Linked DNA regions of Homo sapiens. The protein of the gene in region 2 purifies or fractionates together with the protein of the main gene of each other region. This does not show direct contact. Each region holds a gene or a part of one and is shown on either strand. Other genes may lie near its edges.

Evidence for each region.
Region 1: the proteins of MTHFD1 (region 2) and PAK4 purify together in Homo sapiens (co-immunoprecipitation; one large-scale study listed by IntAct). This does not show direct contact.
Region 3: the proteins of MTHFD1 (region 2) and TNFRSF10D purify together in Homo sapiens (co-immunoprecipitation; one large-scale study listed by IntAct). This does not show direct contact.
Region 4: the proteins of MTHFD1 (region 2) and AHCY fractionate together in Homo sapiens (co-fractionation; one large-scale study listed by BioGRID). This does not show direct contact.
Region 5: the proteins of MTHFD1 (region 2) and STK38 purify together in Homo sapiens (affinity purification with mass spectrometry, with the first as the bait; one large-scale study listed by BioGRID). This does not show direct contact.
Region 6: the proteins of MTHFD1 (region 2) and RRBP1 fractionate together in Homo sapiens (co-fractionation; one large-scale study listed by BioGRID). This does not show direct contact.
Region 7: the proteins of MTHFD1 (region 2) and PPA1 fractionate together in Homo sapiens (co-fractionation; one large-scale study listed by BioGRID). This does not show direct contact.

The regions. Positions count from the first base shown.
Region 1 is NC_000019.10:39,170,543-39,174,884, forward strand, and holds part of PAK4 (serine/threonine-protein kinase PAK 4), read left to right. Parts: intron 1-2,375; coding exon 2,376-2,834; intron 2,835-3,033; coding exon 3,034-3,468; intron 3,469-4,342. UniProt on the Homo sapiens protein: Serine/threonine-protein kinase that plays a role in a variety of different signaling pathways including cytoskeleton regulation, cell adhesion turnover, cell migration, growth, proliferation or cell survival.
Region 2 is NC_000014.9:64,391,124-64,395,465, reverse strand, and holds part of MTHFD1 (C-1-tetrahydrofolate synthase, cytoplasmic), read right to left. Parts: intron 1-4,342. UniProt on the Homo sapiens protein: Trifunctional enzyme that catalyzes the interconversion of three forms of one-carbon-substituted tetrahydrofolate: (6R)-5,10-methylene-5,6,7,8-tetrahydrofolate, 5,10-methenyltetrahydrofolate and (6S)-10-formyltetrahydrofolate.
Region 3 is NC_000008.11:23,137,556-23,140,867, forward strand, and holds part of TNFRSF10D (tumor necrosis factor receptor superfamily member 10D precursor), read right to left. Parts: intron 706-3,312; coding exon 633-705; intron 449-632; coding exon 315-448; 3' UTR 1-314. UniProt on the Homo sapiens protein: Receptor for the cytotoxic ligand TRAIL. Contains a truncated death domain and hence is not capable of inducing apoptosis but protects against TRAIL-mediated apoptosis. Reports are contradictory with regards to its ability to induce the NF-kappa-B pathway.
Region 4 is NC_000020.11:34,296,497-34,300,838, forward strand, and holds part of AHCY (adenosylhomocysteinase), read right to left. Parts: intron 1-4,342. UniProt on the Homo sapiens protein: Catalyzes the hydrolysis of S-adenosyl-L-homocysteine to form adenosine and homocysteine. Binds copper ions.
Region 5 is NC_000006.12:36,540,723-36,545,064, forward strand, and holds part of STK38 (serine/threonine-protein kinase 38), read right to left. Parts: exon of another isoform or gene 1,047-4,342; intron 68-1,046; exon of another isoform or gene 1-67. UniProt on the Homo sapiens protein: Serine/threonine-protein kinase that acts as a negative regulator of MAP3K1/2 signaling. Converts MAP3K2 from its phosphorylated form to its non-phosphorylated form and inhibits autophosphorylation of MAP3K2.
Region 6 is NC_000020.11:17,612,692-17,616,597, forward strand, and holds the end of RRBP1 (ribosome-binding protein 1), read right to left. Parts: intron 3,319-3,906; coding exon 3,235-3,318; intron 2,839-3,234; coding exon 2,740-2,838; intron 2,190-2,739; coding exon 2,046-2,189; intron 1,530-2,045; coding exon 1,491-1,529; 3' UTR 988-1,490; downstream 1-987. UniProt on the Homo sapiens protein: Acts as a ribosome receptor and mediates interaction between the ribosome and the endoplasmic reticulum membrane.
Region 7 is NC_000010.11:70,219,431-70,223,772, reverse strand, and holds part of PPA1 (inorganic pyrophosphatase), read left to right. Parts: intron 1-4,342.

The DNA.
Region 1 (4,342 bases), on a different chromosome or scaffold from region 2:
TCTGAAGCCAGCCTTGGAGCCTGGACTCTCTCCCATGGTCAGTGGGGACCAGGAGGGGCCGCAGGCCAAGGGGAACTCGGCCAGGTTTGCATCCAGCGGGTGGAGATGGGTGTGCCTGGGGACTCACCCTCCCGGTGCCCAGCCCAGCCTGGCGGGGAGAAGCCCCAAGGCCCACAAGTTGGCCATAGACACAAGTGCAGCCTCAATGTGGTAGCCCACTGAGGGGTCCGTGTGGTCCTTGCAGGGTGCTTTTGAATGCTTTGACTTCTTTGCCTCCACTGAGAAAGTGACAGACTTCACTTCCAAAGCCGTTTCTGGCATCTGGTGACAGACCAGCTGGAGGCGAGTGGCAGCTGCCTCCACGGGCAGGGCACTGGCTCTTCTGGGCCACAGGCCGCACCCGACCCACCTCAGCTCCACGCCCTGCCTGGCTCTGTGGCCACTTGCATGTAGGCTTTGCCCCCACCAAGGTGTCTCCAAAAACCCAGCCCCTGCCTGGCTTGCCAGATGTGAGGCCTGCCTGTGACTGTCCCAGCAGGAGGCAGGGCACTTGAATTCACACATGGGGCCTTGTGGCCAGCACTGTCCTGGGGCCCCATAGGCACTTGTGTTTGCTGCCCTTGACCGGGCCTCAGGCCTCCCAGGACCTTCTCGACTCCCTGTTGGTTTTTTTTTTTTTTTTTTTGAGAGACATTCCTGCTCTGTCTCCCTGGCTGGAGTGCAGTGGCGCCACCTCGGCTCATGCAACCTTCGCCTCCTGGGTTCAAGCGATTTTCCTGCCTCAGCCTCCCGCGTAGCTGGGATTACAGGCGCCCACCACTATGCCCATCTAATTTTTGTATTTTTAGTAGAGACGGGTTTTCGCCATTTTGGCCAGGCTGGTCTCAAACTCCTGACCTCAGGTGATCCTCAGCCTCCCGAGGTGCTGGGATTATAGGCGTGAGCCACTGCTTCTTGCCTCAACGCCCTGTTCTAACAGCAAAGTCTGGCCTTGTGTCCACCTTGACTTCCTGGGGCCCCTGGGCAAGGCCCGGCTTCAGGCAGACAGCCACGGCCAGGAGAGACAGGGCAGCGGCAGACCACGGATTTTGTGGGATCAGTGTTTTCTACACGTTACAGGCAGGCCTCTGGCTGGAGGATGCCTGGCAGCCCCAGGCAGGGTCCGGGTTTCGTGGGATCAGTGTTTTCCACACATTAGAGGCAGGCCTCCGGCTGGAGGACATCTGGCAGCCCCGGGCAGGGTCCTTGTCAGCAGGGCCCACGTTCTCAGCTCACTGTGGCCTTTGCACAGACACCTCACTCACTACGTGGTTTAGCAAAAGTTCACTGAGCCCCTGCTGTGCGCCAGATGCTGGTCTAGGTGCTGAGATGGAGCAGGACCCGAAGCAGACAGGAAAAAACAATCCCTGCCCAGAGCATGCACTAGGCAGAGCCGGGAGCAGACAGATGCCTGTGTGCTCTGTATCAGCTGCTGTTAGGTGCTCTAGGTAGAATGCAGGCAGGGCAGGGGCCGGGGAGGGCAGGGGCTGGCATTTTAGATGATGGGAGGCCAGCAGAAGCCTCACTGAGAAGCTGAGTTTTGAGCAAAGACCTGAAGGAGTGGAGGGAGGGAGCCACAGGGACCCTGAGAGCTGATGTTCCAGGCAGAGGGAGCCGCCAGCGGAGAGGCCCTGGGCGCAGGGGGGCGGGGGTGGGGGAGACACCCGTGTGTCTGGAAATGGAACGGGGGCAGAGGGGGCCTGCAGGACACGACTCAGACCACAGAGGGTGGGGACCGGGTGACTCGGGATGCACTGGATGCTCTGCCTGGTCCCCATCTGCATTTGCATTTGCCACCCGGCTCCTGGGACCCCCTTGCCCTCTACTTTGGGACCAGGCCTTTCTGACTCTCCCTGTCCCCCACTCCTTGTTGTTCATGGGAGCAGAGAGTGTGGTTTTGGGGCTAAGGAACACTGGCGCCCACATGGGAGGAAGTGCCAGGCCAGGCCCTGGCCCCAGCGCCCTGTCATTTGCAGCCCTCGGGGCTGATTATGGGGTGGGTCAATTTCTGCCCTTCCTCCCCCAAACCCCTCAGGGCAGGACTATTCCACCAGTGTGAGGAACAGGAGAAAAACAAGGGGGGCCTCTCCAGGGTCCCACCGAGCCCAGGGGGCAGCAGCCTGGCCATGGCGATCACTCCTCTGGCCCCTGCAGCTGTGTCCCCAGGGAGGGGAGGGGCTGCACTGCCCATGCCATTGTCACTCCATGGCATCTCTTCATTGCGTCTCTGTCTTGTCTCTGTGTGTGTCGTGCTGTCCTGTCCCTGCGTGTCGGATGCACGTCCTGTGTGCCCCACTCCTTGCTGGGCCCCCACCCACCATTGCCTGGGACCCCAGACCATCGTGCGGGGCAGCAAAGGTGCCAAAGATGGGGCCCTCACGCTGCTGCTGGACGAGTTTGAGAACATGTCGGTGACACGCTCCAACTCCCTGCGGAGAGACAGCCCGCCGCCGCCCGCCCGTGCCCGCCAGGAAAATGGGATGCCAGAGGAGCCGGCCACCACGGCCAGAGGGGGCCCAGGGAAGGCAGGCAGCCGAGGCCGGTTCGCCGGTCACAGCGAGGCGGGTGGCGGCAGTGGTGACAGGCGACGGGCGGGGCCAGAGAAGAGGCCCAAGTCTTCCAGGGAGGGCTCAGGGGGTCCCCAGGAGTCCTCCCGGGACAAACGCCCCCTCTCCGGGCCTGATGTCGGCACCCCCCAGCCTGCTGGTCTGGCCAGTGGGGCGAAACTGGCAGCTGGCCGGCCCTTTAACACCTACCCGAGGGCTGACACGGACCACCCATCCCGGGGTGCCCAGGTAACCCATCCCCCGCCCCAGGGCCCCCACTGTCCCCTGCCCGTTGCTCCTCTGTCCCCACCTTCCAGCCCCGCCCCACCACCGTGCATCTCATCCTGACCACCCATGTGTCTGTCCCATCGCTGGGTCTCTCTCCTGCTTAGGGAGCAGAGCTGCTCCCTGGCACCCATCACTGACAGCTACCTCTCTTCTGTTTCAGGGGGAGCCTCATGACGTGGCCCCTAACGGGCCATCAGCGGGGGGCCTGGCCATCCCCCAGTCCTCCTCCTCCTCCTCCCGGCCTCCCACCCGAGCCCGAGGTGCCCCCAGCCCTGGAGTGCTGGGACCCCACGCCTCAGAGCCCCAGCTGGCCCCTCCAGCCTGCACCCCCGCCGCCCCTGCTGTTCCTGGGCCCCCTGGCCCCCGCTCACCACAGCGGGAGCCACAGCGAGTATCCCATGAGCAGTTCCGGGCTGCCCTGCAGCTGGTGGTGGACCCAGGCGACCCCCGCTCCTACCTGGACAACTTCATCAAGATTGGCGAGGGCTCCACGGGCATCGTGTGCATCGCCACCGTGCGCAGCTCGGGCAAGCTGGTGGCCGTCAAGAAGATGGACCTGCGCAAGCAGCAGAGGCGCGAGCTGCTCTTCAACGAGGTGCGGGCGCTGCTGCCCTGCCGCCCTGCTGGTCCTCCCACCCCTCCCTCCCACCCTCCCTCCCCTCCTCCCTCCTCTCCCTGCACTCCTCCGTGCTGGGCCAGGCTCCCCTCCTCCCCTCACTCTTCTCCCTCCCCAGGCCGTCTCGTCCGCCCCAGCTGGGTCCCTGCCTCTGTCCTCACAGCACCCTCACCCACATCTCTGTCCCTGAGCCCCAGACCCAGGGTTCCTCGGGCCACTGACCCCCGACCCAGTGTCTTCCAGGCCCCTCGCACCCACTGAGGCCCGCCTGGGCTCCAGGGTACAGTGTCCTCCAGACCTGCCCCTCCTGGGTTCCCTGTGCCCCGCCCTGGCCTCCACTCCTGGGTGTCCCTCGGCACAGCCCACACAACCACCAAGAGTATGTTTCTGACGTTCAGGCCCACCCCCTCCCCGTCCCTCCTTAGAGACCCTGGCAGTGCCCCGTAGCACCCTGACGATAGGAAGCCCAGGTCCCTTTGCCGGGTGTGTGAGGCCCCTCTCGACCCCGTTGCCCATCACAGTGCCGGGCTGCACCATGGAGCTCCTCGCCTGGGTTCCTCATCCTCCCGCCGACACACGCCTCTTCTCTCATCCTTGCCCTTGTCCGGGTCTCAGCCCTGTGATTGAACGCTCTCTTCCCACCTGCCCCCCAGCACTAGCCCAGGACTGACCTGAGATGGGCGTGTGCCCAGGGGGGCGCGCCCCCAGAAGGGAGGCGTGGGCTTCAAGCTGGCTCTGAGGCCCACGTGGCTGTGGCAGTAGGGGAGGGCAGTCCAGGTGGCCCCAGTGAGCACAAGCTTAATGTGGAACTGCAGGGGGAGCCAGGGGGGTGGCGGTGGCTGGGTCTGGCACT
Region 2 (4,342 bases):
CCTGAACAATGAGGTCCCACCTCCCCCACCCCCACCCACTCAAGGATGAGGGGGTAGGCAGCATCTACTCAGATCCAACAAATTGATGGCATGAAGATAGACAGTACAGTATTGCTAAACTGTTCACATCTTTCAAAAAGTCAAGCATCCAGATTTTTATGTGTAACTACAGGCATAAGTGTGTTAAGAAGTAATCTAATGTTGTAAAGTAATAAATGTGTTGAGAAGTAATCTAATTCTGTAAGCCAAACAAAAAACATTTGGCCTCTAGGCCACAATTTTATCACCTTCTGCCAGTAGCAAGAGTTATGAGACAAGACAAGGTTGGCTCTGAGTATGAGGATCTGTAAGAAGCGGTGCTTAACTATATGTCAACAAAGGAGAGTTGATGCCAGTGGGTCTGCTGGTGAGAACAGGCAGACCCCTAATTCTAACACTGAGAATTAGTCTCACTATTGGAGGATTACCTAACCATAGATCTGGCCGCTAGAGCTGACTAGGGCTCCAATGAACAGCTCTAGGTCCCTTGCAGCCCTCTGGATCATCAGAGGGGAAGGTAGAAAGAATGGGGAAGGTAAGGGTTCTCCACTTGGAGGGAAGAACCTGCCAAGAGCTTGTAATGAGAAAAGCCTCACAAGGACCTGGCCTTCCTGCTTTTCAAAAAGACTGAACAAAACCTTAGGTAGAAAAGGTTAGGTCTAAAAGGCTGCTTACTAAGGAGGGACTGGTATTTGGGCACCTAAACCCAAAGATCACTTATAATGTTAAGTCATTCATTGCAGTCAAGATTAAGTTCCTGACAGGCTCTGGCAAAACCTTTCACAGAAATGCTCCCTTATCTCCTGGGACCTCTCAAGCACCAGATACCAAGCAGTACGTCTCCCGTCCAGGCTTGTGGTGAGGGGCAAAGAAAAAAAAAAAGCTTAGCCAGCAAAGTAAGTAGGTCTGACCTGTCTCTAACCAGTCAAAATTGGACTATAACTTCAAAAATGACTTTTTGAAGAGAATCTGTTTGGGTGCTTCCCAACCAGACTGATGGGTGGAATGATTTCCTCACAATGGAAAGGCCTCAGGGAGAACCAAACCCAGGGTGTCTCCTGCTGGAGGGTAGAAGTTTGCAATTCCTTCTAGCAAGCCAATGACAAGCCCATGGTAGGGAAAGAAATGCACCATCGAGCCTCTGCCACCTACCTTGGAACACCTGGGCAAGTCACTTAGCTTCTGGCTAAAGTGTCATAAACTGCAAAATTGAGGGTAAGGGTAGTAGCCGAGTGGCTGAGGAATCTTGACTGTGGCACCTTTAGCCACCCACTTCTTCAAGGTCAAGGATTTACAGGGTGACAGAAGCTGCTTTTTGGTCAATTAAGGGGTGCAAAGGAGAGCCAACCGCACAGTGCAGGGGTAATGGGGGCCTTCTGCACTGTGGATGGGACGTCAAAGAAGCTTGTTTTGAGAGTCTTACATTCTTTTAATCCTTGGGGCAACGTCAGGAAGTAGACAGTTCTCATCATCCCTACTGCACAGAAAGGAAAGTGAAGCTAACTTTTCCAAGGCCACACAAGCATCCCTGCCCCTTAACCTCTATTCTACCAACCTCTACTGAGTCAATTAGAGGAGAAGGGAGCCATTTGCTTCCACTCCAAGGACCCTCCTCTGTACTAGGCCAGCTTTCCTTCTAGAAGATTCTTCATGCAAATAGGGGATGTAACAGGGAACCACAGACCTCTGCTCAAAACCCCACTACCCAAATCCCAAACTGCCTGATCCCAACTCCCCTGATGGACAAGGACAGACACTTATTTGCAAACCACATCCCCAATCAGGTGCCATGACCATAGTAGTTGGCTGCCAGCTCTGGGCTCTGCTGCACTATCGCTGCAACCTGCCCAACAGCCTGGCTGGGGTCCTAGCTGAAGGTCCCAGCCTCTCTGGAACTCCGACCTCTCCTGCACAGGCTTCCAGAATCAATCCAGCTATGACAGTCAAGTTTCCATGTAACTTTTGAGCAACCTGCACTTTGGAGTTCATTACAGGCAAATTTTTTTTTTTTTTCTTTCTGAGATGAAGTTTTGCTCTTGTTGCCCAGGCTGGAGTGCAATGGCGCCATCTTGGCTCACTGGCTCACTGCAACCTCCTCCTCCCAGGTTCAAGCCATTCTCCTGTCTCAGCCTCTGGAGTAGCTGGGATTACAGGCATGGGCCACCATGCCCAGCTAATTTTGTATTTTTAGTAGAGATGGGGTTTCACCATGTTAGTCAGGCTGGTCTCCAACTCCTGATCTCAGGTGATCCTCCTGCCTGGGCCTCCCAAAGTCCTAGGATTACAGGCATGAGCCACCACGCCCTGCCCAGACAAATCTTTTTAAGCACAAAAGGGCCTACATGTATTTAATCTACAGGACAAAGTAAAAGTCTTATCCATGTTAACTTAGTAACCAAGAAGACCTGCCCTTCACTATGGTAAGCAAATTATTTTCACAAAAACAGTTCTTCTAGCCCTGTAGCTAAATGTACAGCCAAGGTTCCAAACTTTTATCTTTGATCACTAGGATAAATTCTAATTTTAAGTCTCAAGATTATAAGCCAGCTCCCAAAGGTACAGCCTGGATAAACACAAACATCACTTTTTTATTCAATGAGTACTTTCTAAGTACCTATTTATTAAAACTTACCATGTACCAACAACTTCTCTAAATGCTTTATAGGTATTAAACTCATTTAATTCTAACAACCTTATGAGTTAGGTGACATTACTACCCCAATATACAGAAGCTAAGGCACAGAGGTAAATTGCATGACCCAGTGATGCACAGAGGAGGCAGCACCGTGCTTAGGCTCTGGAGCTACCATCCACAGCGAGCTTACAAATATACCCAACTTGCCCTGCACTTGGCCAGCAAACACTCGCAGCACCTACTCAAACCATCTGCCTCTTCACAACCAGTCTCTTTAGAAAGGAGACTTAATCAAGAAAAATGCCACCAATGGAGAGAGCAGGCTTAATTATAGCAAACTAAGGGAAGGAAAAACCAAACAAATCATATAAATGTAGTAAGCCCCCCTTTGAAAGGCCCACTTATAGAACAACTATGCTTTCTTGCCTACAAAGCAAGGTGGGTCTTCCAACACTAATGCACATCCTTCTCCCACTTTGCATAATCTTTTAAAAGACACCACCCTTCTGCCCAGGGCAGGGTCAGGTTCCTCTACTCAGGAGCCTCCACTCGGTCAGCTTCTCACAGGGCCATTGCCATTGACCCCCCAAAGCAGTAAGTTAGTAACTGGTGAGGACAAAGGTCTATGGCACAGGCTGTGTTTTTGGTCAGGAGCTATTTCCCTCACAACATTGGCAGGCTTAAGGCTCCACCTCCTTCAAGTCTTTGCCCGTAAGTCACTTTTACAAAGACTATGACTCCCATATTTAAAATTGCAGCCACCATACCACAGAAACTCCTGTCCCTCTTTTCTGCTCTGGTGTTCTCTTTGTGCTTCCCACCAGCTCACAATGTGTTTCACCTATTTAAATGTCTGTCTCTACCCATCAGTATGCAAGTTTCATGAGGGTAGGGATTTGGGCTGTTTTGTTCACTATTAGACTCTCAGAGCTTTGAAGATTGCCTGGCTTAGGGGACACATACAGCTACTTGTTGAGTAAGTGAATAAATACCCACAAAGAACAGATACTTGTCTCTAACTCTCAGACCTTCCCCCGGTTGTCAAATTCAGGCTGCAAACTTAGAATTCCCCGTGAGGGAGAAAAGGGGCTGTTACTTCCAAAGAAAGATAATTTGGCAACTAAATCCATCATGTAAGTACCCAGTTTCCCACAGAGTAGAGCAGGTAGAGAAGGAATCTGGAATGCTGAACTTTGTTGATGTCCGAGCTCCCAGGAAGGCATAAAAGGAGAATAATAATAGAAGAGGACGAGTCAGGGATAGCATTCTCAGCAGGGTGGGAAACATGCTAATGAGAGGAAGACTGTAAAGAAAAAGCAAAGCGCCAGCGGGGGCGCAGTGGCTCACACCTGTAATCCTAGCACTTTAGGAGGTGGAGGTGGACAGATCACTTGAGGTCAGGAGTTCAAGACCAGCTTGACCAACATGGCGAAACCCCATCTCTACTAAAAATTCAAAAATTAGCCGGGCATAGTAGTGCATGCCCGTAGTCCCAGCTACCTGGGAGGCTGAGGCAGGAGAATCGTTTGAACCCAGGAAGTGGAGGTTACAGTGAGACAACATCGTGCCATTGCACTCCAGCCTGAGCAACAGAGCAAGACCTTGTCTGAAAAATAAAAAGAAAGAAAGAAAGAAAAGAAAAAGAAAAGCTTACGAAATTCCTTTTAG
Region 3 (3,312 bases), on a different chromosome or scaffold from region 2:
CAGCCTATCAAAGTGCTGGGATTACAGGCATGAGCCACCGCATGTGGCCTAAAACGACCCTTAATACACAATCGTATAACTATGCAGCCAAGAATCTGATATAAATTTCTCCCGTTTGCTTATCACACGCAGTATTTCATAAAAATTACTCCAAGTGCGTTAACAAAGTTCTAGGACCATTGGTAAGCTGCCCCATATTGGATAGTAGAGTTTGTTGGGGCATGGGTCAAGTACTGGACTGTTTCTTCCAGGCTGCTTCCCTTTGTAGGAGAAAAGGTAAATGAGGGAAGCTCTGGTTTCCTGAAGAGATTCTTTCACAGGCAGGACGTAGCAGAGCCTGCCTCATCTTCTTCATAAAAGAGCTTTTCGGAGCCCACCAGTTGGTCCTGAATTGTTTCCTTTGCATGTCCTTCTTCCAGTGTTGCCGAGGCATCCAGCAAGGTGCTGACTGAGAAGAGAGAAGAGATTTAGGGTCTCAATGCTCCAAGGACGATCAGCACAGGATCGACATGGGGCCCCCTGCTTCCAGCAGTGAAACCTCCAGAAGAGCCCTCTCAGCTATAGGGACAGCAGTTAGGACACCGTCCCTATTCCCTGTCCTCCTGCTGCGTCTCAAGGCACAAAACACTTACTGTCAGCGGAGTCAGCGTCATTCACTGGAACCAGCAGCCTCCTCCTCTGACACCCTTCAGCTTCTGCCTGTTCCTGTAACACACAGTGGGGAATGCTCTGGTCAGAGTCAGGAGTCCTGCAGTCTAGTACTGACCCTGACCACTAGCCAGCAAGAGACCTGCAGCGCTTTCCCTCTTGGGTCTCCATGGAGATGGAGACAAACCTCTGGTCCTCCATAGCTCTTGGGCTCTGTGTGCTGGTGGCTCATTGAGACATAAGTGACATGCAGTAAATGCTCACTTTGTAAGTGTTCTGACCAACTTTGACTATAGGCCTGTGTAATTATCCCCTGATCAAGACATAGAAACTGCCACACCCCAGAAAGTCCCCTTCTGCCCCATCTAATCAACTCCCACCCACCCTCACAAGAAATGATCACTTCCTTCCAGAATTCTTACCAGCAGAGTCTCGGCAGACTATATATGAGAGCACCCAGGAAAACCTAACAAAATGATTTATCCCAAGACTGTAAATGATCTTTGATCATCAGTACTCTACCATATCAATAGCGTAATTAAATAAAATGGCAGTCTCTATGGAGGCTGGAAAGACATTTGGTAAAATTAAACAGCAATTCTGATTTTTTTCAAACCCTTTTAGAATAGTAAGCTGTGTTCTTGATGATGAGAATTTCTATATGAAACCAAAAGTGAATGCCATTGCTAAGAGTGACACTTTGGAGGCCTTCCCCAGAAATCAAATCAGGACCCAAACACCTGCCTTCCCTAAGCACAGCTGAATATTGTTCTGAAAGGTCTGGCCTAGGCAACAAGATGGAAAATTAAAATGAGGCAAGACTTTTGGAAGAGGGCAGACACAATAATCATTATTTTCAACGTCATTTAAAACCCCTAAGATGAAACTACAATATTGAAATAGAAATGTATGTCTGGAGGAATGTTAAAAACATAGCAAATGCAATAAATTAGCAAACAGAATTACAAGGTTATCCAACTCATAATGGATACAAAATACTAAACAGCCATAAGAAACAGGAATAATTTATTTGAAGAGGAACACAAATCACAACTCAGTTACAATAAAATACTTGACACCAAATGTTATCTCCTTTGATAAGGAAATACTGAATATTAATAAAATATTCAGTGTTTCTAGATTAATTTTTAATTTTAAAGCGAATTGATAAAACGGCAACTGAGGTTTTTCGGGAGGGAAGGATGGAGGAAATCTTTTAATTCTAAATTTTATCTGGGTAAAATAATACATTTTGAAAAAGTATGGAAGAGGTGTTTGCTCTTTTGGATGTTAAAAAACATTAGAAAGTTCCCATTGGAACATGCCTCAAAATGGTAAGAGCCATCTATGACAAACCCACAGCCAACATCATACTGAATGGGCCAAAGCTGGAAGCATTCCCCTTGAGAACTGGAACAAGGCAAGGATGCTCACGCTCACCACTCCCATTCAACATAGTACTGGAAGTCCTAGTCAGAGCACTCAGGCAAGAGAAAGAAAGAAAAGGCATCCAGATATGAAATGAAGAAGTGAAAACTCTTCATGGACGATATGATTCTATACCTTGGAAACCCTAAATACTCCACCAAAAGGCCCCTGGAACTAATAAACGACTTCAGCAAAATTTCAGGATACAAAATCAATGTATAAAAATCAGTAGCACCGGGCACCGTGGCTCACACCTGTAATCCCAGCACTTTGGGAGGCCGAGGCAGGCGGATCACGATGTCAAGAGTTCAAGACCAGCACGACCAACATGGTGAAACCCCGTCTCTACTAAAGAATACAAAAATTAACGGGGCGTAGCTGGGTACGGTGGCTCACGCCTGTAATCTCAGCACTTTGGGAGGCCAAGGAGGGCGGATCACAAGGTCAGGAGATCGAGACCATCCTGGCTAACACGGTGAAACCCCACCTCTACTAAAAATACAAAAAACTAACCAGGCGTGGCAGTGTGCGCCTGTAATCCCAGCTGCTGGGGAGGCTGAGGCAGGAGAATGGCGTGAACCTGGGAGGTGGAGCTTGCAGTGAGCTGAGATCGCGCCACTGCACTCCAGCCTGGGTGACAGAGCAAGACTCTGTCTCAAAAAGAAAAAAAATCAGTAGCATATCTATATACCAATAATGTTCAGGCTGAGGACCAAATCAATAACACAATCCCATTTACAACAGACACACACACACACACACACACACACACACACACACACACACAATACCTAGAAATACCTCTACCCAAGGATGTGAAAGATCTCTAAGAGAATTACAAAACACTGCTAAAAGAAATCATAGATAACATGAACAAATGGAAAAACATTCCATGCTCATGGATTGGAAGAATTAATATGGCTAAAATGGGCATACTGCTGAAATCAATCTACAGATTTAATACTACTCCTATCAAATTACCAATGTCATTTTCCACAGAATTGGAAAAAATTATTGGAAGTAACTGAATCACGTGGACTGGTTTTTCCAGTTCTGTTCTTGTGATAGTGAATAAGACTCACAAGAGCTGATGGTTTTATAAAGAGCAGTCCCCTGCACACGCTCTCTTGCCTGTCGCCATGTAAGATGTGCCTTTGCTCATCTTTCACCTCAGGCCATGATTGTGAGGCCTCCCCAGCCATGTGGAACTGTGAGTCCATTAAACCTCTTTTTCTT
Region 4 (4,342 bases), on a different chromosome or scaffold from region 2:
ATTTCAGGTGCTATCTGCCACCTAAAATGTCTCGAATTTGTTCAAATTCTCAGGCAGGAAAGAAGGATATTATTATGAGCTAACTCACTATCTCAATACTCTCCCCTACCACACTGGTCCACTTCCAAGGTCATACCCTAGGTCAGTCCCTAGGTCAAAGTTTGCAGACTTCCCCGGTAAGGGATGTTCCTCTGGCATGCTTGTAAATCTCCCCTGGAAAATATGATTCAGCAGGTCTAAGACTCCTGGTGATTTTTATCTTTAGGGAAGCTGAGATCCTGCCAAACACCCAAAGAGGTAGGCGGTGGGAGGCAAAGGACTCTGTAGAGAATTTAATAATCTAAGAATTTAATAATCAATAAAATTGTCTGTCAGTCAGCTTCCTACAGTGCATTTTAACAATTTCAGAGATGAAACACGCCTCCCGCATGAGAGACCACTCCGGCTGTGCCTCAACTCAAGCCACCCACCCCAGCCCTCCTACCCTAGTAGGCCATCACCAGTGATAGCTCTCCTTGGAAATCTGGACTTCAAGCACCCAACTCTAGCCACGCCTCATCTTTCTGGTTTTCTCCTTCCAGAGGCCAAGCTCCAACAAGGCTGTGGCCTGTCAGGTGAGAACCTCTATTCAATTCATCCTACCAATTTCTAGTGTCCCTTCTACCCCCTTTCCCTTTGAGAACTCACTTGGCAAAACTCTCAGCCCAATTAAACCCGACCCTCCACTGCACCGGACCCACTGAACCCAGCAGGAGGACAATCACAACCCCACCAAGACATCATATTTAATTAATTAATTAATTAATTATTTTAGAGACATAGTCTGGCTCTGTAGACCAGGCTGGGGTGCAGTGGCGCGATCTCGGCCCACTGCAACCTCCACCTCTCAGGTCCCGGTTCAAGCAATTCTCCTGCCTCAGCCTCCCCAATAGCTGGGATTACAGGAACTCGCCACCATGCCCAGCTAATTTTTGTATTTTTAGAGGAGACGGGGTTTCACCATGTTGGCCAGGCTGATCTTGAACTCCTGGCCTCGTGATCCACCTGCTTCAGCCTCCCAAAGTGCTGGGATTACAGGTGTGAGCCACCACACCTGGCCAAGATATCATATTTATTAAGACCATAAAAGACACATAGCACATTGCAGCAATCCTATGACATTTTCCTAGTAAATTTACTCCCATTTTCTACTCTCCTCAACCCTCCAACACCTTTCCCCATTGAATGACAATCTCACTTCCCAATTCACTGAGATGAATTCAGAACCAGGCCACTTTTCCCCTATGGAATCCACTAGTCACCTATAGCAGTCATCTACAGCTTCAGACCAGGCACTCTTTCCTGTTACCACAGATGAGTTGAATGGGCGCGGTGGCTCACACCTGTAATCCCAACACTTTGGGAGGCCAAGGTGGGCAGATCACTTGAGGTCAGGAGTTCAAGACCAGCCTGACCAACATGGTGAAACCCCGTCTCTACTAAAAATACAAAAATTAGCCGGGTGTGGTGGTGGGTGCCTGTAATCCCAGCTACTCAGGAGGCTGAGGCAGGAGAATCACTTGAACCTGGGAGGCAGAGGCTGCAATGAGCTGAGATCATGCCACTGCACTCCAGCCTGGGTGACAGAGTGAGACTCGGTCTCAAAAAAATAAAATAAAATAGATGAGCTGTCCTGTGGGCGGCAAGCCACCCAGGCACCGAGGCAAGAGACAGAGGACACGAGCTGTTCCAGTATAATAAAATATAAAACAAGAATAGTTATACTAGATATAGATCTTATATATGATTATATATGAATATCATTAATCATTAGTTTGTAGCAATTACTTTTTATTCCAATATTATGATAATCCTTGCTCTATAATCATAGCCTAGGAAAAACCAGGCCATACAGAGATAGGAGCTGAGGGGACATAGTGAGGTGTGACCAGAAGACAAGAGTGCGAGCCTTCTGTTATGCCCGGACAGGGCCACCAGAGGGCTCCTTGGTCTAGCGGTGACGCCAGCGTCTGGGAAGACGCCCGTTACCAGGCGGATCGTGGTCCAGCGGTAGCAAAAGGTGTCAAGGAACAACACCCGCTACTTAGCAGACTGGGAAGTGGCGGCGGCGGGAGGGGGGGGGGTGTCTCCCTTTCCCCAGGGGAGTTTAGAAAAGACTCTGCTCCTCCACCTCTTGTAGAGGGCCTGACATCAGCCAGGCTCGCCCACAGTTATCCAGAGGCCTAACCATCTCCCTGTGATGCTGTGCTTCAGTGGTCACACTCCTAGTCTGCCTTCATGTTCCATCCTGTACACCTGGCTATGCCTTCTAGATAGCAGTAGTAAATTAGTAAAAATACTAATAGTCCCTGATATGCAGAAATAATTGCGTAAGCTGTCTTTCTCTCTGTCTCCTCTCCCTCCCTGCCTCGGCTGCCAGGCAGGGAAGGGCCCCCTGTCCAGTGGACACGTGACCCACATGACCTTACCTATCCTTGGAGGTGACTCACATTCTTTACCCTGCCCCTTCTGCCTTATATGCAATAAATAACAGCGCAGCCCAACATTCGGGGCCACTACCGGTCTCCGCGCATTGATGGTAGTGGTCCCCCGGGCCCAGCTGCCTTTTCTCTTGTCTCTTTGTCTTGTATCTTTATTTCTACACTCTCTCGTCGCCGCACACAGGGAGAGACCCACCGACCCTATGGGGCTGGTCACTACACTATCCCTGCTCCATGGGGCCTGATTCCATATCCCCTCTCCTCCTTAAGGACTTCCATACTCCACTAAAACTGCTCTTCCGTCCAAAGACCAGCCTGATCTCCATACCTGATGCAAAATTACCTAAGACCATGTTTCTACCAGCAGCACAGATTGCATGAATGACTTGCCCTCCTTCCTGAAACCCTTTCTTTACTTGGCTTCTGTGACTGTCCTGTGCTTTTCCACCTACCTTCCTGGTTCCTCTTTAGCTAACAGACTTTAGGGTTTGGGGGCCCTCAGGGCTCCATCATCTCCCAGTTCTCTTATGTTTACCAATTAAGCTCATCCAGTCTTATGGCTTTACATACCTTCTCTACGGGGATGACTCCCACGTATTTATATCCAGCCCAAACTACTCCCCTGAACTTGAGACTCGATGTGATCCAACTGCCTCCACAGCACCTCCACTTGGATGTCCAGTTGGATCTATTATGTGTCATGTTGGAGTCCTCATGGCTCCTTTGCCCCCACTACCGGTTACTCTCCCAATCTTCCCATTTTAGGAAATGAAACCACCATTCAACCAGCTACTCTGCCCAAAAACTTAAGATTTGATTCCTCTTTTCCTCTTTCACCTCAATCAGCACGTTTTTGGCTCAACAAGTGAAATATATAAGCAATCCAACTGCATCTCACCACCTTCATCTAAACTGTCACTTCTCAGGCTGGGCGCGGTGGCTCACAGCCTGTAATCCCAGCACTTTGGGAGGCCAAGGTGGGCGGATCACCCGAGGTCAGAAGTTCGAGAGCAGCCTGGCCAACATGGTGAAATCCCATCTCTACTAAAAATACAAAAATTAGTTGGGCGTGGTGGTGGGCACTTATAATCCCACCTACTCAGGAGGCTGAGGCAGGAGAATTGCTTGAACCTGGGAGGCGGAGGTGGCAGTGAGCTAAAATAGCACCACTGCACTCCAACCTGGGTGAGAGGGAGACTCTGTCTCCAAAAAAAACAATAAAGAAATAAATACACTGCCACTTCTCAGTTGGACACTGCCACACTCTCTTCACTGGTCCCATGCTCTAACATGCCATTCTCCCCACAGCAGCCAGAAGAGGGAGGCTCTTAAAAATTTAAGTTACATCACCTCCATCATTCTACTAAAGTAAACAAAACTAAACAAGCAAACCCTCCAATGGCTTCCCTCAATCTTCGGGCCCTATCTGCATGACTGCCTGCCCCTCCTCCATCTCTCCACTTTCCCCACTCACTAGCTGTTCAACACACAGGCTTCCTGACTGACTTCAGGCAAGCTCCACTCATTTCCACCTCAGGGCTTTAACCCAAGCAGTTCTCGGCCTGGAAGGCTCCTCTCAAGCACCTAATACAGTACCTGGCACACAGTAGGTGCTGAAAAAAACCTGGAAACAGGAAAGAACCTAGTATATCCCTGCTAGAGGAACCAAGAGTGCACCAGGGTGACTCAAATAGAGGCATAAGATGAGTTGGGACTTCAGTCCCAGTGAAGTGGGGAACCTACAGTTTTCAGGGGCCAGCATTCAGAGACCAGATTTGTCTTTTGAAAAGACCCCATTGGCTGCTGTGTGGATCTGCGGAGCAAGAGATCCAGGGAGACCTGCAAGGAGAGAGACCAGACTG
Region 5 (4,342 bases), on a different chromosome or scaffold from region 2:
TTCAATCGATTCTCCCACCTCAGTTTCCCGAGTAGCTGGGATTACAGGCATGCGCCACCACACCTGGCTAATTTTGTATTTTTAGTAGAGACGGGGCCACCTCGGCCTCCCAAAGTGCTGGGATTACAACTGTGAGCCACCGCGCCTGGCCCACACAAATATATCTTTATTTATTTATTTATTTGTTTGTTTTTGAGAAGGAGTCTCGCTCTGTCGCCCAGGCTGGAGTGCAGTGGCGCGATCTCCGCTCATTGCAACCTACACCTCCCAGGTTCACGCCATTCTCCTGCCTCAGCCTCCCAAGCAGCTGGGACTACAGGCGCCCACCAATACACCGGGCTAATTTTTTGTATTTTTAGTAGAGACGGGATTTCACCATGTTAACCAGGATGGTCTCAAAACTCCTGACCTCATGATCCGCCCATCTCAGCCTCCCAAAGTGCTGAGGATAACAGGCGTGAGCCACCGTGCCCAGCCCACAAATATATCTTTAAAACATATTAGTGCAAGTGCATATTGCATTTTTAAAAAGAGAACAAGATCACAATACCATATAGATAAATTAAGAATATATAGTAAACCACACGCCTGTAATCCTGGCTTCCTGGGAGGCCAAGACAGAGGTCTGCTTGAGTCCCCAAGTTTAAGACTAGCCTGGACAACATAGTGAGACCTAAAAAAAAATATACAGTATGCATACAGTACAATTCTTTGCCATCTAAAAATCTACCTTGAAGAAATCAAAGACCCATAAAAATTCATCACAAGGAGGTGCAATGCAGCATTGTAATCACAAAGGGAAATTAGGGATAACTTGAATATACACAATAGAATTAATTCAGTATGAAAAAGCCCTTCAATAAAATAATGTGCAGACAATTAAAATATGTCCAAATAGTTAATGTCAGAGGAAATGTTTCCACTCTAAGTCAACAGAACACATTACAAAGCAGAATGTATATCACGATCTCAATTTTCTTTATGTGTTTACTGTATATGCACATAATTATTAGAAACATATCATCAAAATGTTATTAGTGGCTTACCTGTAGGTAGTGGGAATAGAAAATGTTATTCTTGCTTGTGCTTTTTCCATGTTTTTCTTTTTCTTTTTTTTTTTTTTTGAGATGGAGTCTCACTCTGTCGCCCATGCTGGAGTACAATGATTCAATCTCAGCTCACTGGAACCTCTGCCTCCCAGGTTCAAGCGATTCTCGTGTCTCAGCCTCCCAAGTAGTTAAGATGACAGGCACCAGCCACTGTGCCCAGCTAATTTTTTTTTTTGTATTTTCAGTAGAGACGGGGTTTCACCACACTGGTCAGGCTGGTCTCAAACTCTTGACCTCAAGTGATCCACCCAACTTGGCCTCCCAAAGTGCTGGGATTGCAGGCATGAGCCACTGCACCCAGCCCATGTTTTTCTATATTTTCTTCCATAAGCATATACTGTTACCAATAACTTTTTAAGTTTATCCACAGTTAAAAGAAAAATCTATGATTAAAAATGGTAATCTGATACATATATGCTCTGACACAGCCTTAAGGTATTTGATAAATGTTTGCCGTTTATTTGAATTTACAAGTTAAAATAAAGTTTTAAGTCTTAAAATAAAGGGAACAATATGACAAAAAACCTGAATCACGATTCTAGTGGTAGAAGCAGCAATACCTTAAAAACAAGAGATCTTAATTTCCTCATTTTACACAAGAAAAAAACACCACCAATGTGTTTAGATAAGTTATAGAATATTTTTTTCCTAAATTTAAAATATTGTTTTCAACCAGGAGTGTGGCACACACCAGTAGTCCTAGCTACTCCAAAGGCTGAGGCAGAATTGCTTGAATTGGGAAGCAGAGGTTGCAGTGAGCCGAGATAGCGCCACTGCACTCCAGACTGGGCTACACAGCGAGACTCAGTCTCAAAAATAAATAATAAAATCGGCTGAGCGCGGTGGCTCACGCCTGTAATCCCAGCACTTTGGGAGGCCAAGGCAGGCGAATCATCTGAGGTCAGGAGTTGGGAGACTAGCCTGACCAACAGAGTGAAACCCCGTCTCTACTAAAAACACAAAAATTAGCTGTGCGTGGTGGCAGGCGCCTATAATCCCAGCTACTCGGGAGGCTGAGACAGGAGAATCGCTTGAACCCGGGAGGCAGAGGTTGCAGTGAGCCGAGATCATGCCACTGCACTCCACCTGGGTGACAGAGCAAGATTCCGTCTCAAAAAAAATAAATAAATAAAATAAAATCTTGTTTTCCTCCAGATATTTCAGCTAACCTGTATTATCACACTTGGCCAAATTGTTCACTAACATTGACTTGCTCCAGCATTGGCAATAGCGCTCAATTTTTTTTTTTTTGAGACGAAGTCTCGCTCTGTCGCCCAGGCTGGAGTGCAGTGGCGCGATCTCGGCTCACTCCAAGCTCCGCCTCCCAGGTTCGTGCCATTCTCCTGCCTCAGCCTCCCGAGTAGCTGGGACTACAGGCACCCGCCACCACGCCCGGCTAATTTTTTCTATTTTTTAGTAGAGACAGGGTTTCACCGTGTTAGCCAGGATGGTCTCGATCTCCTGACCTCATGATCTGCCCATCTCAGCCTCCCAAAGTGCTGGGATTACAGGCGTGAGCCACCATGCCCGGCCAATAGTGCTCAATATTTTATTCTTACCATTCCTACCTCTCATATGATCTACTTCTCTGTCTCTTCATCCCAATATAAAGCTGAGTAAAAATTAGGAGAGGCTGAACACTGTGGTTCATGCCTGTAATCCCATCACTTTGGGAGGGTGAGGTAGAGAGATCATTTGAGCCCAGGAGTTCATGAGTCCAGGAATTCAAGACCAGCCTGGGTAACATAGCAAGACCCTGTCTCTACTACCCCCCACAGCTGCAGCAAAAAAGAATCATGAGAGTCAAAGGGCCATTTTTCTTTTTTTGGAAATGGAGTCTCACTCTGTCGCCCAGGCTGGAGTGCAATGGCACAATCTCGGTGCACTGCAACCTCCGCCTCCTGGGTTCAAGCGATTCTCCTGCCTCAGCCTCCCAAGTAGTTGGGACTACAGGGACATGCCATCACCCCCAGCTAGTTTTTAGTAGAGACGGGGTTTCACTATGTTGGCCAGGCTAGTCTTGAACTCCTGACCTCAGATGATCTGACTGCCTGGGCCTCCCAAAGTGCTGGGATTAGAGGCATAAGCCACCGCACCCAGCCAAGGACCATTTTCAAAGATAGTGCATTTTAAGAAAAGTTTTCAGGTTTTCCCCCTTAATATTTAGTAGCTTTTTAAATTGTTTTGTGGATTAAACTAAGGCTTATAAAACACTTGTTCAAAAAAGCCTTAAAATTATTTAAAAAGCAATTATTTAAAAAGATACGCAGACAAAAATCACATAAATAATTCCTTCAGAGCAGAGATTCAAAACTAAGACTCTACTTGAGAGTCAAACATTTTGATTCATCATGTGCCAAAAAGATCAGTAAAAACAAATTTAAGACACTGCATTAAGAGCTACCTTACTATAAAATATCACATTATTTTTTATGGGGAAGTTTCGACTAATACCAAAGCAAACTCAAATGTTTTAGAGTATCACTAAAGGAATTAAAAAAAACAAAAACAACAAAAAAAAAACCTCTGTTTGGTTTGTGAAGCTTGGGTGTGGTTCCTTATTTGTCAGCCTGTACCCCCCCCTCCACCCACAATGAAAACCACATGCACTCTAAGTGTGTTTGGTGAAGAAATTTAAAAACCAGATGTAAAAACATGTCAAAAGCAAGTGAGAGTTTTGTACTTCCTTGTCTGAAAATTCCTGAAGAAATTGCATATATGTAGTTACATTTTAACAACTGAAATTACTTCAACATAAAAATGTAACAATTTGCCAGGGCACTGGTGCACCCCTGTAATCTCAGCACTTTGGGAGGGAGAGGTAGGAGATTGCTTGAAACCAGCCTGTGCAACATGGCAAAACCCCCGTTGCTACAAAAAAATACAAAAAATTGGCCAGGTGTGGTAGCACACACCTGTAGTCCCAGCTACTCAGGAGGCTGAGGTGGGAGGATTGCTTGAGCTGGAGAGGCAGAGGTTTCAGTGAGTTTGGCTTGTGCCACTGCACGCCAGCCTGGGACAGAGCAAGACTCTGTCTTAAAAACAACAACAACAACAACAAACACAACACAACAATCTGCTAGTATTTAACCCTAAGGCAAACAGTGCCTTCCATATAACAGGCAGTTGAGTAAGTTAATGATTTTTAGTTGTCAACAAAGCTAAAGAATAAAGATGGCCGGACACGGTGGCTCATGCCTGTAATCCCAGAACTTTGGGAGGCTGAGGCAGGT
Region 6 (3,906 bases), on a different chromosome or scaffold from region 2:
GGGCTGAGGAAGGGAGGCACACAGACGCACACCGCGGGGCTTCCCTTGGTCTTGAGGTTGTGAAAACCATCCGAGTCACTGCCACCACCTGAAGGGGCCATGCACGACAGAGATCCCAGAGCAGGCCACCTGCCAAGCTCATAGGCCTGTGGAGACCCCGGTTCTTGCTGCCACTGTCCCTGACAGAACCCTTCTCACAATGTCGTCCTGGAGGACCTGCCATCCAAGAGCCCAGTTGTCCCCCAGCCAAGTTCGGCCAAGCAGACCCTCTCCCAAGATTCCGAGGCTTGGCAGGGAGATTAAAGTGAACAGTCCTTGGTCAAGGCAGACCCGCCTTCCATTCCGGGCTTGGTTGGGGCCCTACTGTGACTCTGAGCCTCTGAACGTCTTTGTGGACTAAGCTCCAGGTTCCTATTGTTTACACTCAAAGGGACACACTTCTTGGGGCCAAAGACCATGCTGTCAGGGGCCGCTGAGGACACTGGGTCTGAGGGTCGTGGCAAACCTAAGCTGGTTTCTGCAGGTGAAACTCCACCTCCCGAGGGCAGGCAGTGGGCTGCTCCAGCCCTGGCCCACCCTCCTGGGGTGTGGGTGTCTAAGCCCCAGCCAGGACAGAGACCCCTTGTTCATTCCCGGACCTCCATCACGCAACAGCCCGGGCCACCAGCCGCGCTCACAAACCTCAGCCCCTCCGGGATGCGGGGCAGCAGTAAATGTATCTGGCTCTCAGGTGTCGCAGGCCCTGCTCCCTTATCCTGCCCGGAGGGCACTGAGGTCTGGGAGGTGACAAGGAAAACTGCTGGGGGCCCCGGAAGCAGCGAGTCTCAGCCCCACCCCACGCTACGCGGAGCTGCAGAGCCTCTGCCTTCAAAGCAGCTGAGGCCCACGCTTACTCTCTTCCCGAGTGCGCCCCCACCCCTTGGTTCTTCATCTTGGGCCCAACAGCGGGTGGGGGAGCCCCAGCAGAAGACCAGACGAGACCGCAGCACCGGGCACCAACGTTGGTTTTAATGGCATCAACACCCAGGAGGTCACACGTCAGTTCTGGTTGGCAACGTCTAGGGGTGAGGGGCTGTGGCCTCCAGTCGGCCCCACAGCCTTTGAGAACTGGCTGCCCGGTCCCACCCGCTTCCCGCCCCGCCCCACTGAAAAAACACTAAACGATTGCACTGACAGACAGACCCCAGAGCGCCCGGCCTCCCACACACCCACGGGGCTGTCAGAGTCAACCAGGGCTTTGGCGTCACTCGGCGGTGGCCCGGGGCTGCGCCCAGGATAGTGTTTATCAAATGTGACACAGGTTCATTTACAAACTGGGGCTCTGGAAGGTCTACTTCTGTGGCTCTAAGAGACTTGTCTCTCATGGCTTCTCTCGGAGCTACCGGAAGTTGGGCCTGGATAACGCTGTGTAGGTTGGTTGGTTTATTTGTAAGGAATGTGTAAGGCATTTTGGTAAGTTGAACAGTAACTTCTTTTTCCAAAGAGGAAACTCAGACAGAGGTGCCCTCCTTTGAGCTGCTGCCGTCCTCCTGTGAACGAAGGCAGGTGGCGTGAGGGGGGCTGGGCCACGAGCCATGGCAGAACCACCTGCCCTCTACCCTGGGCCTTTAGTCCCTCCCTGGATTGACCCCCTCAAGCCACTCCAGTCCCTCAGAGAACAGGAGCCACAGACCCCTGGGGCTGGGGGACAGGGAGGACTTGGTGGGAGCTGAGGGGAAACCATCATCCTGCAGGGCAGGGGCTGGAGCACTGGCTAAGGGGCCCACACAGGTGCAAAGTGAGGACCTGGGCCAGCAGGGGGATCAGACACTCGCTTCCCAGCAAGGGAACCCCAGAAGGGTGGGTGGTGGGCCGGGTGGGCTGAAGCCCTCGTTAGGAAGTCTCTGTCCCCACTACCTCCGCCCAGCTCTGCCTCCCCTGGGGCTCCCAGCCCAGCGCTCCCAGCAGCTTGACGACTCCGCCCAGCTCTGCCTCTCCCGGTCCTGCCTCCCCGGGGCTCCCGGCAGCTCGACTCCTCCCGCCCTGCTTTGGCGCCAGGCACGCACTGCCTTTTCCAGCTGTTCCTGCAGCTTCTTCACCGTGTCCTTCTCCCTTGCCAGCTGCTCCTGGGTCGTCTTCAGAAGCTCCTGCAGTCTCGTGGCGGCGCGCCCCAGGTCACTTGTTAACTTCTTCTCTTTTTCTAGTCTCTCCTGATGGTCAGAAGGTTGACGGGCATCAGCCCTTGCACCGGCAGGAGGGCCACCCCAGCTATGCCCACAGGACCCTGACGCCAGGGGCTGGAGCCCTCTGGGGACACAAGGAAGGCAACTCCTGGTCACCCGGAGATAGGTGGTGACGACAGGGAGGAAACCGCCCATGCTGACCGTGAGGGCTGGGTCCTGTGCTCTCAGCACCACCAGAACTTCCTGGGGCAGGAGCAGTTTACTCCGCACTGTCCAAGGCAGCACAGGAGACACACCTGACTACTGAGCGCTGGACGTGTGGCTGAGGAACGCACTTCACGTTCTACATGCTTCACATTTCGACAGCCACCAGGACTAATGGCTGCCATGTGACCATGTGACACTGCAGGGCTAGGAGTCCCCACCCCAGCCCCGGGTAGTGACAAGGGGAACCAGTGCCAAGGGCAGGTCCCGGTGGGGTCGGCTCTCCCCTTCCTGGCCCCTTTCCGAGGCCAAGAGTGGCGCCAGCCCCAGAGCAGACCCTCCAGGTGTGACCCCCGCCCCAGCCCCTGCCTGCCTTCAGCTGTGAGGCCTCCTCTGTTTCTGAAGACTCTAGGGGGCCGGCTGTGCGGAGCTTCTCCAATTCTTCTTGTAACCGACATGCCGAGGTCTGAGCCTTGCCGGAGAGGGAAGTGAGGTCTGGGTGAGACGTCTTATAAACGGCTGTGCTGTCAAGACCCTACCGAGCACGCCTGGGGACCAGGGGGCCCCCCCAGCCTGATGGAGCAACAGCTCCATCCTGTAGCTGGAATGAGTGGGCCAGACCCACAAGTTCTGACCCAGCCCCAGGCCCTCAAGGCTCCTCAGGGATGCAGACCACCCACAGGGCTCCCAAGGTGCCTCCAGCCTGTGCTCCACCTGCCCGGGCCCCACCCACTGCTGCCCAGAAGGCCCAGGCCCAGCCCAGGTGCTGCTGGGCACAGCCGAGCGGGGCAGGGCTGACCCACTCATTCCCTGGAGACTCAGGGCCCAGGGGCTGATGGGGGCTGAGAGCCACCAGGCAGGGCCTGACCTCCTCAAACTCGGCCGTGAGCTTCTGCCGCTGTGTCTGCTCATCCTCCAGGATGGCTTCTGTCCACTCCAGCTGCGTCTTCAGCTGTGCAAACACCGCAAACATAACCCGGCAGCCCGGTGAGGAACCCTCCAGGGGCCCAGGGATCCAGCACAGGCACCGCTCTCTAGCTGCTTCTAGCTTCCCCTTTCCCTGCCCCAACGCTCCCCTCGTTGGGGAGAGGGCACCTCAGCCCCTGGTACAGACTTCGGTGTGGCTCAGGAGCAGCTGATGGGGCCTCTGCAACCTCAGGGGCCTTTAACGAGACTCACAGGACAAGAACGATGCCTCCGAGCCCTGGCCCCATGACAACCCCCTTAACAGCCACACCATGGCCACCCCAGGGACAGGCCCTGCCTCTTGGTGAGGACTCTTGGTGGCTATTGCCGGGCTCAAAACTCTGGAGAGCGAATATCCTGCTAGCGATGTCCCAGCCGGGGTTGCAGTGGGAGACAGTCCCCTTCGATGGCTGCAGACCCTGCCCAGAGCTGCTCCTGAGCCCTGTAGGTGCAGACCCCAAATCACGGACTCCCTCTTCGAGTCCCACCTCCCCCCAACTCCTCCAGCCTCTCCACCTGGCCACCTTTCTGTTCCATGCTCTGTGGCTTTCTCCGAACCTGGATGATCCAAATG
Region 7 (4,342 bases), on a different chromosome or scaffold from region 2:
AAAATCAGTATTTTTTAAGTGCGTGAATATTGGAATCATTAGAATGCATAAAAACAGTAATAGTTTTTATAGCAACTCTGTTGCTATAAAATTCATTGAATTTCTCATATCAGTTGCCCTGAAAAATCCTAAATATCACTGTTGTTCACCTAGTAGCAACTCTTTGAATTGTAGCCAGATGTCTAGAAGAAGGTTGTTCTTTAGTAGTAATTCCTGCTAAAGTATGTGGAACACCCCCTCCTTACAAGTACAGAGCTGGGCAGGATGGCTTGCACCTGTAGTCCCAGCTACTAGGGATGCATAGGCAGGAGGATCACTTGAGGCTAGGAATTAGAGACCAGCCTGCTCAACATAGTGTGACTTCATCTCCAAAAACATAATTAAAAAACAATTAGCCAGGTGTGGTGGTGCACACCTGTAGGCCCAGCTACTTAGGAGGCTGAGGCAGGAGGATTGCTTGAGACCAGGAGTTGGAGGCTGCAGTGAGCTATGATTGCGTCACTGTACTCCAGTCTGGATGACAGAGTGAGACCCCGTCTCTCTCTCTCTCTCTCTTTAAAAAAATGTTTTTTAAGAGACAGGGTCTTGCTATGTTGGTCAGGTTGGTCTTGAACTCTTGGCCTCAAGCGGTCCTCCTGCCTCTGCCTCCCAAAGTGCTAGGATTATAGACGTTAGTCGCCACGCCTGGCTGAGACAAGTATTACTACAGCATCTACATGCATTTGAAAGTGTGCTAGTATTCCATGCATAAAAAATGATGAGTTCATGTCCTTTGTAGGGACATGGATGAAGCTGGAAACCATCATTCTCAGCAAACTGTTGCAAGGACAAAAAACCAAACACCGCATTTCTCACTCATAGGTGGGAATTGAACAATGAGAACACGTGGACACAGGAAGGGGAACATCACACACCGGGGCCTGTTGTGGGGTGGGGGGAGGGGGAAAGGATAGTATTAGGAGATATACCTAATGCTAAATGATGAGTTAATGGGTGCAGCACACCAACATGCAACATGGCACATGTATACATATGTAACAAACCTGCACTTTGTGCACATATACCCTAAAACTTAAAGTATAATAATAAAAAAAAAGTGTGCTAAACATTGATTTTACAGATGAGTCACTCACCCCAAGCTGTAGCCTGAGGCCTACAAACTGGAAGTACCTGATTTAGCAGGCGAGAATTCTACCCCTGAACCACCAATGCTACCAGCAGGAAGTACCTGATTTGGAAATCCAACTCTTTGGGAGTTAAAAGAACTTTTATTTTGTTCATTGCTAGTCTTCGGAGCCTAGAAAAGTGCCTGGCACATCCTGGTGGTTCACAACAAATATTTGTTGAAAAAAATCAATGAATTGACTCTGGCTTTTGCAGGTACTCCTTGTTGTTTTTCGCCCAGCTAATTTCTTTTTTTTTTTTTTTTTTTTTTTTGAGACGGAGTCTTGCTCTGTGGCCCAGGCTGGAGTGCAGTGGTGTGATCTCAGTTCACTGCAACCTCCGCCTCCCAGGTTCACGCCATTCTCCTGCCTCAGCCTCCCGAGTAGCTGGGACTACAGGCACCTGCCACCACGCCCAGCTAATTTTTTTGTATTTTTAGTAGACACGGTTTTTCACTGTGTTAGCCAGGATGGTCTCGATCTCCTGACCTCATAATCCGCCCACCTCGGCCTCCCAAAGTGCTATGATTACAGGTGTGAGCCACCACCCCCCGGCCTCACCCAGCTAATTTCTAAAAAGCACCAGACCTTCAAGCTTTTGTTCGCAGCAGAATTCTCTTACCATTTTCTGAAGGATGTTTTCTTCCTTGTTATTTTTTTCCTTCCCATTAATTATGTAGATTTATGTTATTAGGTAATACTGTTTTGAGGATCTATACATATTTGTCATTTACTGCTATTAAAGTGTTCAATATAGTTTCTAAACTTTGAATTAGTTATTTTAGCTCTATCTGCTATATCTTTCTTGAAGCAATGTATTCATTTGGTGGTGTTTTAACGAAATTAACAGCTAATCTTGGCGAGCTCTTCAGTTGATCTTTCATGTCGTAACAGCTCCATCTTGTGAATCTTTAGGGTACTGCTGCTGGAAACCGAAAGCCCTGACTTGTTCTTTTCACAGACCTACAGATCTCTCGTTTTTACACCTGAGAAGTGGACAAAATACTTGAAAACCTAGTGGACAAGGTGAAATTTAGTCAAAGATTGGTTCTGAGGTTTTCTACCCAGGATTAATAATTAGTGTTACATTTTCTAAACCATCTGGTTATTTTAGAGGGAAACAGGGATAGAGCAGTTTCTTCAGTCCTAGATTTAAGTAATATCTCCATTCTTTTGGTTTTTATGTTGTATTGGGTAAGTGAGGTATCAGGAGGCTTGGAGCAGAAACCTATGGATGCTTTAGTCTCCCATGGTTTCAGCAGGAACTTAAAATGACAGAAGTTCTACACTTTTGAATCAAAATCAGTGTAGTTTTTCTGCTTGGTAGCAGCAGGTAATTATTGACTTGAAACCTTTGACTTATTCCCTTGTGGCTTATCAGTTCCCGTTTTTTGATGGAAAGTAGCAAAGAAGTAATTCTAAAGAGTGGTGTAACCAAGTGATTTTCATTTTAAGTTAAGTTCTTAAAATGTACTTTACCAGTCTGGGGTAACATGGCAAAGCTCCATCTCTACAAAAAAAAAAAAAAAAAAATATATATATATATATATAAATTATATATATATATAATTTATATATATATTATATATATAAATTATATATATGTTATATATATAAATTATATATATAGTATATATATAAAAATTATATATATTATATATAAATTATATATATAGTATATATAAAAATTATATATATTATATATAAATTATATATATAGTATATATAAAGTATATATTATATATATAAGAATTATATATATAATATATATAAAAATTATATATATAATATATATAAAAATTATATATATTATATATATATAAATTATATATATTATATATATATAAATTATATATATTATATATATATAAATTATATATATTATATATATAAATTATATATATTATATATATATAAATTATATATATTATATATATATAAATTATATATAATATATATATAAATTATATATATTATATATATATAAATTATATATAATATATATATAAATTATATATAATATATAATTATATATATTATATATATAATTATATATATATTATACATAAAAATTATATATAATACATATATAATTTATATATATAAAATTATATAATATATATAAAAATTATATATATATGCACATACACGCACACACACACACATATATACATATACACACACACACAATTAGCTGGATGTGGTGGCATGCATCTGTAGCTCCAGCTACTCAGGAGGCTGAGATGGGAAGATTGCTTGAGCCAGGGTGGTTGAGGCTTCAGTGAGTCAAGCTCATACCACTGCACTCCAGCCTAGGTGGCAGAGTGAGACCTTGTCTCAAAAAAAAAAAAAAAAAGTACTTTTTATAAGCATAATTGCAGGCCAGGTGCGGTGGCTTACACCTGTAATCCCAGCACTTTGGGAGGCTGAGGCGGGTGGATCACCTGAGGTCAGGAGTTTGAGACCAGCCTGGCCAACATGGCGAAACTCCATCTCTACTAAAAATACAAAAATTAGCCAGGTGTAGTGGCACGCCCCTGTGTTATCCCAGCTACTCAGGAGGCTGAGACAGTAGAATCACTTGAACTCAGGAGGCAGAGGTTGCAGTGAGCCAAGATTGTGCCACTGCACTCCAGCCTGGGTGACAGAAAACAGTAATTGCAGATTTAGCTTCATCTGTGCCCTTTGTAGAGGCTAAAAACTGAAAAACTGCAGTTAAAGTTCTATTCCGTGAAAAAAAATAGTATTCTGAATAATTAAAGCTCAAGTTTAATTAAATAACCTATGGCATATTTAACTCCAGTGTGCAAAATGGGTTGGCAAAGTATGGTTTGTTTTTTCATTGTGTTTTTAAACTGCACATCTGGGAATTTACTCCCTGAATATATCATCTATTTTATAGTAGTCAGTTTAAGGCTATAAGCCAATTACAGTAGAACTATCATTGATTAAAATATTTTTAAAGCATATTCTCTTATCTTCAAGGTCAAAGTCCTTTTCAGGGGGGCTTTATTTCTAAAAACAGCCGAATTGGGAGAATAATGTGGATAATGAAGCTGATGAGTTTTGTTTGATGCTAAAACTAAAGTATGACCAAGTAATTAGGCTGATGTGGGGTTCGTCTTATAAACTAAAGTATGATCAAGTAATTAGTCTGACTTGGGGTTTGTCTTATAAAC